Linked DNA regions of Homo sapiens. The protein of the gene in region 1 interacts with the protein of each later gene in a pairwise test. Each region holds a gene or a part of one and is shown on either strand. Other genes may lie near its edges. The genes, in order: SFT2D2, INPP5K and TMEM143.

Evidence for each region.
Region 2: the proteins of SFT2D2 (region 1) and INPP5K interact in binary tests that used the Homo sapiens proteins (3 or more experiments, as listed by UniProt).
Region 3: the proteins of SFT2D2 (region 1) and TMEM143 interact in binary tests that used the Homo sapiens proteins (3 or more experiments, as listed by UniProt).

The regions. Positions count from the first base shown.
Region 1 is NC_000001.11:168,249,911-168,253,574, forward strand, and holds the end of SFT2D2 (vesicle transport protein SFT2B), read left to right. Parts: 3' UTR 1-3,111; downstream 3,112-3,664. UniProt on the Homo sapiens protein: May be involved in fusion of retrograde transport vesicles derived from an endocytic compartment with the Golgi complex.
Region 2 is NC_000017.11:1,515,124-1,518,869, reverse strand, and holds the start of INPP5K (inositol polyphosphate 5-phosphatase K), read left to right. Parts: upstream 1-2,257; 5' UTR 2,258-2,370; coding exon 2,371-2,414; intron 2,415-2,751; exon of another isoform or gene 2,752-2,982; intron 2,983-3,284; exon of another isoform or gene 3,285-3,443; intron 3,444-3,746. UniProt on the Homo sapiens protein: Inositol 5-phosphatase which acts on inositol 1,4,5-trisphosphate, inositol 1,3,4,5-tetrakisphosphate, phosphatidylinositol 4,5-bisphosphate and phosphatidylinositol 3,4,5-trisphosphate.
Region 3 is NC_000019.10:48,362,532-48,366,277, forward strand, and holds the start of TMEM143 (transmembrane protein 143), read right to left. Parts: upstream 1,410-3,746; 5' UTR 1,390-1,409; coding exon 1,367-1,389; intron 1,001-1,366; coding exon 760-1,000; intron 1-759. Other genes in the region: SYNGR4 (synaptogyrin-4), read left to right, coding at 3,312-3,404.

The DNA.
Region 1 (3,664 bases):
ATTTATTTAACAAATACTTATCTAGTACTATGTGCCCGGCGCTGTAGACACTGCCATGTTTTATCTCATTCAATATTCACAGTGACTGCCCAGTGAATGGTATTGCCTCCATCCTCTGAGAAGGTAAAGAGCCTATCCCAGACCCCACGAGTGGAGGCGTCAGGGAGGGGTTCTTGGCAGGAGATGGGTCTTGTAGAAAGGCTTCTGCTTTGCTTTCACTCACGGCCTGTGGCCAGTTTGCTCAGACAGCTCCCATCAGGACACCATTGGCAGCTTTTGCATGACCCTGCCTCCCAGGGTCTTCCTGCGTTTTTCCTTAAGTTGCCTTATTCTTTGGTTGTTTCCCTACTTGTTTTTGTTAGACTGTGGGAGGAAGAAATCCATTTCAAATCTGCTGAAACCTGTTACCAAGCAACAGCAGTGATTAAAAGCAACCTGATGAGTGAGTAAAGAATTAGGGTTTCAGACCTGTAGTTAATGATGGTCTCTGTCTCCCTGCTGCCCTGCATTCCCTTCCCTTCCGTTCACTGCTGGGTGAAGGAGGGCTTGCTGCATTTTGGAAGTTAAGGGAACCAATAAGGTGACTCTTTTGCAGATTGGAATATGGTGCTCAGCCAGCCATATGGAAGCACTGTCCTGGCGTGATCTGCCCTGGGCTGTTGGCTCTCTGAGTGCTGTCTTGGGAGGAGCACTGCCCTTCAGAACAGAAGAGATGGCTTCCAGTCCCCTCTCCCCCTTCTCCCAGTCTCTCTGAGGCTGCTTGTTGGGTATTGGGCGTGCTGTGTACTAACTCACTCCCGTCTCTTGTCTCATTATCTGAAATGCATCCCCTTTTGCAGAAAGGGCTCAAACGGAGCCTTCAGTTCTGCTCCTCTGCATAGCCGTAGCTCAGATCCTAGCTCAAGATGTCTTGTCTGGGAAGGGCAAAACATGGTCCCCAGTGTAGCATTTTCACTGGGTTGATTATCTCAGTGGTGGATCATCTATCACCCTTGTGTGGTGACTTTGTGAATTATCTGCCTGAGTGCCACTTCCCTTCCACCCTAATCACTGCAGGCTCAGGGAGCAAGAAATAAAATCATGAAATGCATTCCAAATAAAATTACCTTTTGGCTGGGTGCAGTGGCTCACACCTGTAATCTGAGCACTTTGGGAGGCTGAGGTGGGTGGATCGCTTGAGGTCAGGAGTTCAAGACCAGCCTGGCCAACATGGCAAAACCCCATCTCTACAAAAAATACAACAGCAAAAAAATCAGCCAGGCTAGCTGGTGTGCGCCTATAATCCCAGCTACTTGGGAGGGAGGCTGAGGCACAAGAATTGCTTGAACCCAGGAGGTGGAAGTTCAGTGAGCCGAGATCGCACCCCTGCACTCCAGCCTGAGCAACAGAGTGAGACTCTGTCTCAAAAATAAATAAAAAAAAAAATCACTTTTTGATACTTCTGTTAAAATAGATAATAAGGAACCATATCTTAAAGTGTGGAGGATCTGGCTTGGCTTCTGTTTTTGATAGCTCTATGAAAGTGACAGATTTGCATCATGAGACTTAGTGGAATGAATTGGGAAATTGAAGGGCAGCCCAGTGGCTATGGATTCTATTTTCTATGGGACTGTCTACGCCAGGCTTTATTTTCTCTTTGCTCAGATAACTTCTGACTAGAGTCGACGGTAGGATTATAAATGGTTTAAAATACGTATTCTCAAACCTCATTTTCAGCATATAAATTTTTAAGAATCAGTGTTTAAAGGTACGTGAAACCATTTGCTAGATTTTTGTCCTAGTTTTTTTTTTTTAATTTAAAAATCTTAAGTTTTTTTTAGTAAGCTTAAGATGTCCAGTAGTTTATTTGCAGACAGCATTTTTAAAAAGTGAATAGATGTTTAACTGAAGTTAAATACAAATTTATGTCTGTGTAACTCTTGGTAAGATATAACAAAACCTAGACATCTAAATTTTTTGGAAATTTTTATTTTAAAAGTTTGTTGGGAGGTAAAATTGTGTGACTTTACCTTCTGGTTAATAGTTTTATAGTTAAGAAGAAAGTCCAGCGAAGTTTACTTGATCTCAGTTGCACTCAAGAATAGGGGATTTAGTTCCACTTTGGTTATTTTCACTTCTACCCTAAATTCATAGTCCCTGATACTTAAGCTTTACCCTTGGCTTACCAGTTTTCATTGCAGCGAGTAAATGGGGAGTAGCAGAGCCTTTGTTAATGTAAATTGACAAAAAGTATGTCCTTTTCTAGCAGGAGCAGATAAACTGATAATGGTCTTAGAAATGTAGAAAATGATTTTTTGTAGACAGGATGATCTGTCTAGATTGTAGCAAATGATGGTACATATTCACAACAAAGTTGTGCCACTACATTTAATAAACAGCCACAAACAACAAAAGGACAACTGGTCCCCGATATAAATGGACTAGCTACCTGGACATAATATCCTTGTGAGGCATCCTTAAAGGACAAATTGCAGCTGGTATTTGGGTGAATGTTGTTGCTCTGTGCCTGTTGAATGTCCATGCTACAAGAAGTTATGAGCCTTGTTCTAAGTACAGATGAACCTTGTATTTGTGTAATCTCCCAAGGGAGAGCTATGGTTTACATTCAATTTTTTGGTCTTTCTGCTATGAAACGTGTTTATTTTGCCTCTGTCAATGTGTTTGCAACCTTAAGTAAGGAAAGGGAAAAAAAAAATAGCCCTCTGAACTCTGATCTTTTGCCGCTTCTGTAGATTTTGATTGTGAAGTTGGGAGTGAGGACATTCAAAAGCCCATGGTGAATGCATATGCCTTTAGAATATTGTGCCTGTTTTAAAATGTTTGAGCTTTTAAAATACGTTGTTAAAACATGAATCCATTTTTGTAATTGTATAAATACTCATAACTAATTTTGAATGCTACTGATTGTGTAACTGAATTTTTGTATCCAAAAATACATTCTTGAGTACTACTTTTCCTACCTTGAAAATCTATTTCATTTACTAAATATTGTTTTCTTTATGCTAACTTAACTTTAAAAGGAATGTTGCCAAGCTGTCTCTCCTCCCCCATCACAATTGTTAGTTTTTTTTGCTTTCTTTCTTCAATAAATGATAGCATTATGATCTTTAATAAATCTAGTGTTGTCTCTTACTCATGTCTGTATTTCCAGGAGTCTTTAAGCCAAAGGAAGACTGTAGAACTGTAAGAAAAAACCGTATCTTTAATTTGAATTCTCAGTGTGTAGCACACATTATAGGCACTTAAAGATGTTTTGGGGGACCTAACCTGACATGTAGTCCTCTCTTTTAAATGACTTAGGGTTTCACATGGGTCTAGGGACAGTTTGGAAGGTTTTTAAAAAGTAAGACATTTCCTTAAGTGTTTATTTTGGAAAAAAAATACACACACACATACATACATACATACATACATACAAACAAATAAATATATATATTTTTGAGATGGAGTCTCACTCTGCTGCCCAGGCTGGAATGCAGTGGTGTGTTCTTGGCTCACTGCAACCTCGGCCTCCCAGGTTCAAGTGATTCTTGTGCCTCAGCCTCCGAAGTAGCTGGGATTACAGTAGCGCACCACACCCAGCTAATTTTTGTATTTTTAGTAGAGACGAGGTTTCACCATGTTGGCCAGGCTGGTCCTGAACTCCTGACCTCAGGTGATCCAC
Region 2 (3,746 bases), on another chromosome or scaffold:
CTGACTTGGAAAGTTGGAGAAGAGGCATTCCTACTGGAGAAAAATGTCAGTGTTTTCCTATAAGCTCTGTGTTAGCTATTCATTATATTTGTGCTTAAAGATGTTCCTTCATTCATCAACTAGGGGAAGTCCAGATGCGGGTTATCTTGAAAGAAACAAACTGACATTCTAGGCAGACAGTTGTCTATGTGGTCTGAGGGTCAGCAGCTGTTAGTCTCCTTCCTTTGGCTCTTGAGACCCACACATATCACTTTAGCCCTAACAAGGGCTCCTCCCACCTCCACCTGTTGCCCCAGTTGAAAAGCATCCATTATGAGCTGAGGTCAGCCTGGATCTGGAATTGCAGCCCACATAAACATAAAGGAGGATGTCCCTGGTCTGTTCCATCCCCACGGATGGTGTTGCTGCTGGGCAACAGTGTTGGCTTCTTTTAAGTACCCCCTTTCCTCCTCACCCACCTCCAAACTGACTAGCACTCAGAGGGACTTATGATAAAGGTTCAGCTCCAGGGGTAGTACCTGAGTGTGTGCCATGCCCCTTCAGACCAGCTGCTTCCATCAGAATTCCAGGGTCACAGCCCCAACAGAAGCAGCAGTGCCTCTGTAGGAGGGGTGCTGGGCTCTGGCCTTCTCATGCAGAGAGGTCCGGGACAGGGTCAGTATCGTGGGCATGTGTATAGCTTCCCAAGTTCTTTTACAGTCCCTGCTGGGACTCCCTGACTTACTTTGGTTGGTTCCTAGTGCTACTTGTTTTACAAACTACACTTTGTAGAATTGATTAGATTACCTTGTTTATTTAATGTGAGTTTGTGCCTTTTTGTCTCAATCTTCCAATACAGGTATATTGAGAAAAAAAGCAGTCTAATAAAATCCTAGACAGAACTTTCTGGAGTCCAGTTTGGTGATGTCCATTTTCCAGCTGTATGTATCCTCAAACTTGCACTGATAACCGCCATTTTACCAGGGCAGGATTAGGAAGAGGTACAAAGGTGTGTCTGAAAATTTTTGCACGTGGATTTCTGCATATAATAGTCCCGTGTCAGTTTACTTATGCAAACATTGCACATCTGAATTGTAATTCGGCCGTTTCCTACTGACAGGATGTCCTTTTGCTTTTGTCTGCCTCCTCTTCACATCTTCCTCTTTATCCACCCTACCAAACAAGCAAAACATTTATTTAAAGTAGTTTTAGGCCGGGCGCGGTGGCTCACACCTGAAATCGCAGCACTCTGGGAGGCCGAGGCGGGTGGATCAGCTGAGGTCAGGAGTTCGAGACCAGCCTGACCAACATGGCGAAACCCCATCTCGGCTAATTATTATTATTATTTTTTTTTTTTGAAACGAAGTCTCGCTCTGTCGCGCAGGCTGGGGTGCAGTGGCGCAATCTCGGCTCACTGCAACCTCCACCTCCCGGGTTCAGGCGATTCTCCTGCCTCAGCCTCCCGAGTAGCTGGGATTAACAGGCGCGCGCTATCAAGCCCAGCTAGCTTTTGTGTTTTTAGCAGAGACGGGGTTTCACCATGTTAAGGCCAGGCTGGTCTTAAACTCCTGACCTCAAGTGAGCCGCCCGCCTCGGCCTCCCAAAGTGCTGGGATTACAGGCATTGAGCCACCGCGCCCCGGCCTACGTTTCATTTATTGACGGCTAATTCTGTAGGAGTCCAGGAATCCCCAAACGTCCCATATGCAATAGGTAATCCAATAAGTTTGGAGTAGAAGCCTGAAAGTGGGCGTGGAGAACGGAGGCGCTCCCGCAGTAGCAGGAATGGGGAGATTACCTGCAGCCGGGGGGCGGGGGAGACCGGATCCCAGGCAGGACAGTGGCTAGGCTGCGTGTCCCCACCCCCGACCCTCGTTTGACCCCTGGGAGCCGGGGCGAAGACAGCACAAGGACGGAGCCCTCGGATCCCTCACGAGTGGGGCAGAGGCTGCGGCGGCGGCGAAGAGACAACTTCCGCCGGAAGACGGCCCCTGGCGCGGGGCACGCTGGGAGCTGCGGACGGCGGGCGCGGGCTGGGCCGGGTCTAGTGGCGGCCGCACACCTCGCGTCGTCTGGGGCAGTGTTGCGCGTGCGCTGATGACAGGCCCGACACGCCCCTCTTACGTCCGCGAACCCGTCTTCGCTCAGCCTCTCGCAGCTTTGCGCTCGTGGGAGAGTCCCGCCTCCTTCTGCGAACCGCACCACCCAGATCCCGGGGTGCGCGGAGGGCGCGTCTCTGACGGAAGCCGGGGCGGACGGTCGGAGTCCGGAAGAAAAACAGTCCGCGACAGCTAGGCGCGTGAGACCGGCCGCCCGCAGGGCTGCTCTGGCCGGGACCCGCTGGCCGGGAGACGCGAACCTGCCGGACCACCGCGCGGGGACGACGGCGGCCATGAGCTCGCGGAAGCTGAGCGGGCCGAAAGGCAGGAGGCTCAGGTGAGGGCACCCTGGCGGCAGAGGCAGGCCTGCTCGGGGGGATCGGCGCCCCTTGGGCTGCGGGCTGGGGGTGGACAAGGCACCAGACCTCCATGACTGCCTTTGGTTCAGAGGCGCTCTCGCCTTCTCCCACGCCTGTGTCAGGTGGGCTGTGTTGGGCCCGAGCCTCGCGCCCCCTCTAAGCCGAGGCCGCCAAGCTCGTTCCCACTGGGGCGCAGCAGGTGTCCCGGTTGCTTTCTGGAGAGGACAGCCGTGTGGGGTTGTTTGAGGTTAAAGACATAACGAGGCCGTCACCCTTCGGCTCTCGGTTAGAAATCTTTTTCCTACTTTTCATCAGCACATACATCAGGAGGTCTGCCTGATCCCATGGTGAACCCCGGGAATCCGAAATCAGATTGAGATAAGATCCTTTAGGGAAGTGACTTAGCCTGGTCTCTTGCCTGCTCTTTCACGGGGAACAACGCTAATCGCCCACTTAGTCTAAGTCACGATGCTTGGATTTGCTGCTAATCGTCGGATTTGAGAGTGGGAACAAGAAATCCGGACTTTTGCTCTCCATCCTCTTAGAGTGAGTCTGGGAAAAGAAGTCTCTGAGTAAAAGGTCTTTGTTCCTTAAGCCTCTGTCGGACAGCAGGGGGAGATCGTAAACAAATGAAGCTCAAAATCTCAGGCCGAGTGCCTGGGAAGGTGGTTTCTGTATAGTGTTGTTTATGCTAACAGGGAGGGACAGGAAGTTGCTTTAAACTGGCCAAGAATTTCTTGAAGTGCTTTTGAGAACGTCGACCTCTAAGGACGGGGTCTGTTGGAGGAGAGATGTTTTGGCATTAACTGCCCTTTTCTCCCATCCCCCTGTACCCTCTGCCATTCCAGATCTCCAGCTGCTGCAGGTACTCCTCATCGTGTGCCTAGGACTCATGCTAGGCTGTTCCTGGTCTCTGCAGGGTCTGTAGCTCCTGCCCGCTCTGTGCTCCGCACAGTCTGAGGCTTCTTGAAGAGCTGCTGTGACTGACTGTTCCACTAAAGACATCTGTAGGTCTCTCTTTCCTGAGCCTCTGACTGGATCCAGTGTCATTGAGGCCCCTTATCTAGTTTTCTTGCTTCCCTAAGACTTGTAAGCTGAGGTGGAAAATATCCAACTGATGACTTTTCCCCAGAGAGTACTCTTTATTTTTCACGGAATACTACGCAGACATAGAGCATAGACTCTTAAGAGAGATGTCGAGAAACCTGTTACTTAAAAACTCCTTGGCCGGGCGCGGTGGCTCAGGCCTGTAATCCCAGCACTTTGGGAGGCTGAGGCGGGCGGATCACCTGAGAGATCAGGAGTTCAGG
Region 3 (3,746 bases), on another chromosome or scaffold:
AAATAAAGAAAAATAAATGAATAATAATCCTCAAAATCCTCAATAATGACAATGATGATGATGGTGGCAATAAGACCTCAGGTTCTAGAGTGAGACCAAGACTAGGATGAGGTGAATATGGCACCCAAGGGTGCAAAATTTAACGGGGCACTCACTCTTAGGGTCAAGCGAGTGCCCTACTTGCCTAACCCTAGTCCTGGGCCAGCTCTGGAGTCAGACCACTTTGGTTCAAATCTAAGCCACTATGTTGTGGCCTTGGGTAAGTCACTTTCCTTCCCTATGCTTCCATTATCTCATCTGTAAAATGGGGATGATGGTGGTATCTCTCTTACTGATGATTCAACAATACATGAAAAATGTCTGGCACAGTGCCATGGAGTCAGAGCTCAAATTGTGTGATAATAATTATGATTACAGCGTTGTGACTTTATAGGTACAATTATTATCAGGTAGTAGAAATAGTAATGATGAGGATGATTACTATACCCATCTTAAAGAGGGAAAAACCATGCCCCAGAGAGTGCCTGTTCAAGCCCTCAGAACAAGCCAGAGTTGGGAATGGATGCTGCGTCTGCATCTCGGAGACCTGGCTCCTGCATTCCAGCTCATCTCCCGCCCACTAGGGAAACACGAAGGGACCCGGGAACTACAACTCCCAGGAGGCGCCAGGGCAGCTCTCTGCAGCAACTAGGGCCCTGCCGCCGCGAAGCCTGCTGGGAGCCGTAGTCCCCAGGCTCTTGGGCCTGGGACAGGCGGTACCTGTATTAGGAGGCGGAGCAGCTGCTCCTTGGAGAAGGGAATGAAGCGCTCGCGGTACTGCTGGGCCCAGTCGCGGGGCTCCCTGGGGTTCCACATCTTGCGATACTCCCCCATTTTGGCTGCCAGCGATGAGAGGGCCCGGGGGGGCCCGAGGAGCGCGGGCAACAGTGGCCATACTCGGACCCTGGACCCCCAGACCCCCCGGGTCACATGCAGCATGGCTAGACCCTTTCCCCGGAGCCTAAACAGAGGAAAATGGGCAGGGGTCAAAGGCCATCTAGAGGAAAAGCGCCCTCTCCACCTCCACGTCCCACCCTCCAGAAGCCGTCTCTACCCCAGGCAGGGCGCAGAGCCCATCCGCTCGCCTCAAAGCCCCTGTTGCCTGTCCCCTTCCCACACTGCTCAGTTGGCCTGGGTCCCAGACAGGGGTCAGAGGTCTTAGGTTCTGGGGCGTTTTTCAGGCCCAGAGACCCTGTAGTGGTACAACGTTTCTTTGGGGTCTAGACAGCGAGGTAGATCTTAGGAGAGCAGGAAATGCTCGTAAAGGTTACCTAGGGGGTGCAGGGCCGCCCTCCCTGGCCATGCAATCCCCCGATTTCTCCCTCACCTTAGCCAAAGCTCGACTGTCATTGAGCCTCCTGCGCATGTGCAGGAGGGCGTCCTGGGCTCCCGAGGTTCGGCTTCACCCAGCAGTAAAACGCATGCGCAAAGCTTCGGTCAATGCGGGCTGTCCATTTCTCACCGCCGACTCCCTACATCAACTACGCATGCGTTGCCTGCCTTTCTCCACCGCCGGCCTCGTTTGGGCGCGACGCATGCGCCGCAGGAGTGTCTCCTTGTCAGCTTGCTACAAAGGGAAGGGGCGGTGTGGACGCGAGACTCCCTAGAGGGATGGGGCGGGGTAGGGCTCCCGCGCGCAGTCCGCCAACGGCGCGCAGTCCAACGTTCGCCGAGGCCACGCCCCGGCTCGTGTCAGCTCCTGAGTAGGCGGAAAGAGGGAGGGGGCGGGACTTGGGCGCAGCCAATCAGCTGTGGAGGAGCGAAAAGGCGGGAAAAAGCGGAACCAAAAGAAGGCTGAGGTGGCGCTAGGGACCAGGAGGGGTGGGGGTGGCGAAAGGAAGGGCGGGCCCTCAGGTGACGCAGATTGGCCCTCCAGAGAAGGGGCGGCCCCTTCTCAGGTGCCGTCACCCCCAAACCTCAGCACTGCCATTCCAGGTCCTTAAAGGGGAGACCGCGATTCTAAGAAGGTAGCCCAGTGCCGGGGCGTGGCCTCATTCTGAGGTTCCCCACAAATCCGAGGTCCCGACTCCCAGCTTGAGGAGGTGCACTTCCGTGAAAATGGAGCTGAATTCGAAAGGGAGGCCCTTATTCTGGGAAATGGCCCCAAGTGACAAGGACAGCCTGAAATATGCCCTGAGATACCTGGGTTCTCCACGAAGGGTGCTGTCACCCCCAAACCTGAAAGGGATTATTCGGTTTCAGACCTCCCAGGGGCTCTGATCTCAATGGCCGCACCCCCTAGTCCCCAGAAAGTCCCACCTGTGTCCTCTCACAGAAGGACCCAGTCCCTCTGCAGGCCCTTCAGCTCCTGGGTCACAAGACGTGGTCCCCAAATATCCCAGCCCTCCCCTGCACTCCACCTCTGGGATCCCTGACAGCCCTCTCGCCCAACAACCCCCTCAGCCCACATTCCTGACTTCTGGAACCTGAAGCAGCCCCTTCACTTATGTCCCCCACTCCTGGGACCCCCAGAATCACCCTCACCCCAGGCCCTCACCTCTCTGGAATCCTCCATAGACCCCCTTAACCCACACCTCAACCCAGGGGACCCTTAGCGACTCTCTCATCCTGCACCTCCACCTCTGTGACCCCTGGCAGCCCTCCCCACACGACACCTTGCCTGGGACCCCTAGTATCCCCATCCTATGCCCCCCTCTCCTGGGACCCCCAGAAAGCTCCCTCACCACACACAACCCCATTCCTGGGAACCCCCAGCACCCGCATCCTATGTCCCCCACTTCAGGGACCCCTAGCAGCCCTCTCCACACAACACCTTTCCTGGGACCCCCCAGAACCCCCATCCTATGCCTCCCACTTCTGGGACCCCTAGTAGCCCCCTCACCACACAACCCCATTCCTGGGACCCCCAGCACCCCCATCCTATGCCCCCCACTCCTGGGGCCCACAGAAGCCCCCTCAGCACACACAACCTCATTCCCTGGGACCCACCTGCACCCCCATCCTACGTCCCCGACTTCTGGGGCCCCTGACAGCCCATTCACCCCACACCCTGACTCCTAAGAGGCTCAGCAGTCCCCTCACCCCACACAACTCCATTCCGGGGACCCCCCCCATCCCCACCCCATGTCCCCCAATCCTGGGGCCCCCAACAGCCCTTCCACCCCGTGCCCCTGACTGGCATCCCCCATCTGTGTCATCCCACAGCAGCCAAGCCCAGGGCTGGCCTGAAGCCCCCGGACGGCAGTGCCCAGCAGGCAGCGCCCAGCACCCTGGCTCCCACCTCCCAGTGGCCCCAAAGGAAAACAGCTGCCATGCACATCCCCAAAAGCCTCCAGGAGCTGGCCAACAGCGAAGCCGTGCAGTTTCTGAGAAGGCCCAAGACCATCACGCGGGTCTTCGAAGGGGTGAGGCCCTCCCATGGCCCGACTGTGCCCCTGGGTGACAGGAGCCAGGAGCTCTCAACTCCCAGACACAGTGCGGGAGATGGGAGGACAAGGAAGGGGTCAGACGGGGAAACAAGACAACGGAGCAAATGCTGACACCACCTTTTCCTGAGCACCCCACTATAGGCCCTATGCTATTGAGGCACTGATGGACTCTCATAGTAAGGAACAGCCCTCACAGTAGGTGCTGCAAGTCCCATCTCTGAGATAACAAAACTAGGGCTTAGAAAAGTTAAGTAAATTTTTTTTCTTTGAAACAATCTTAATTAGCCAGGCATAGTGGCACACACCTGTAATCCTAGC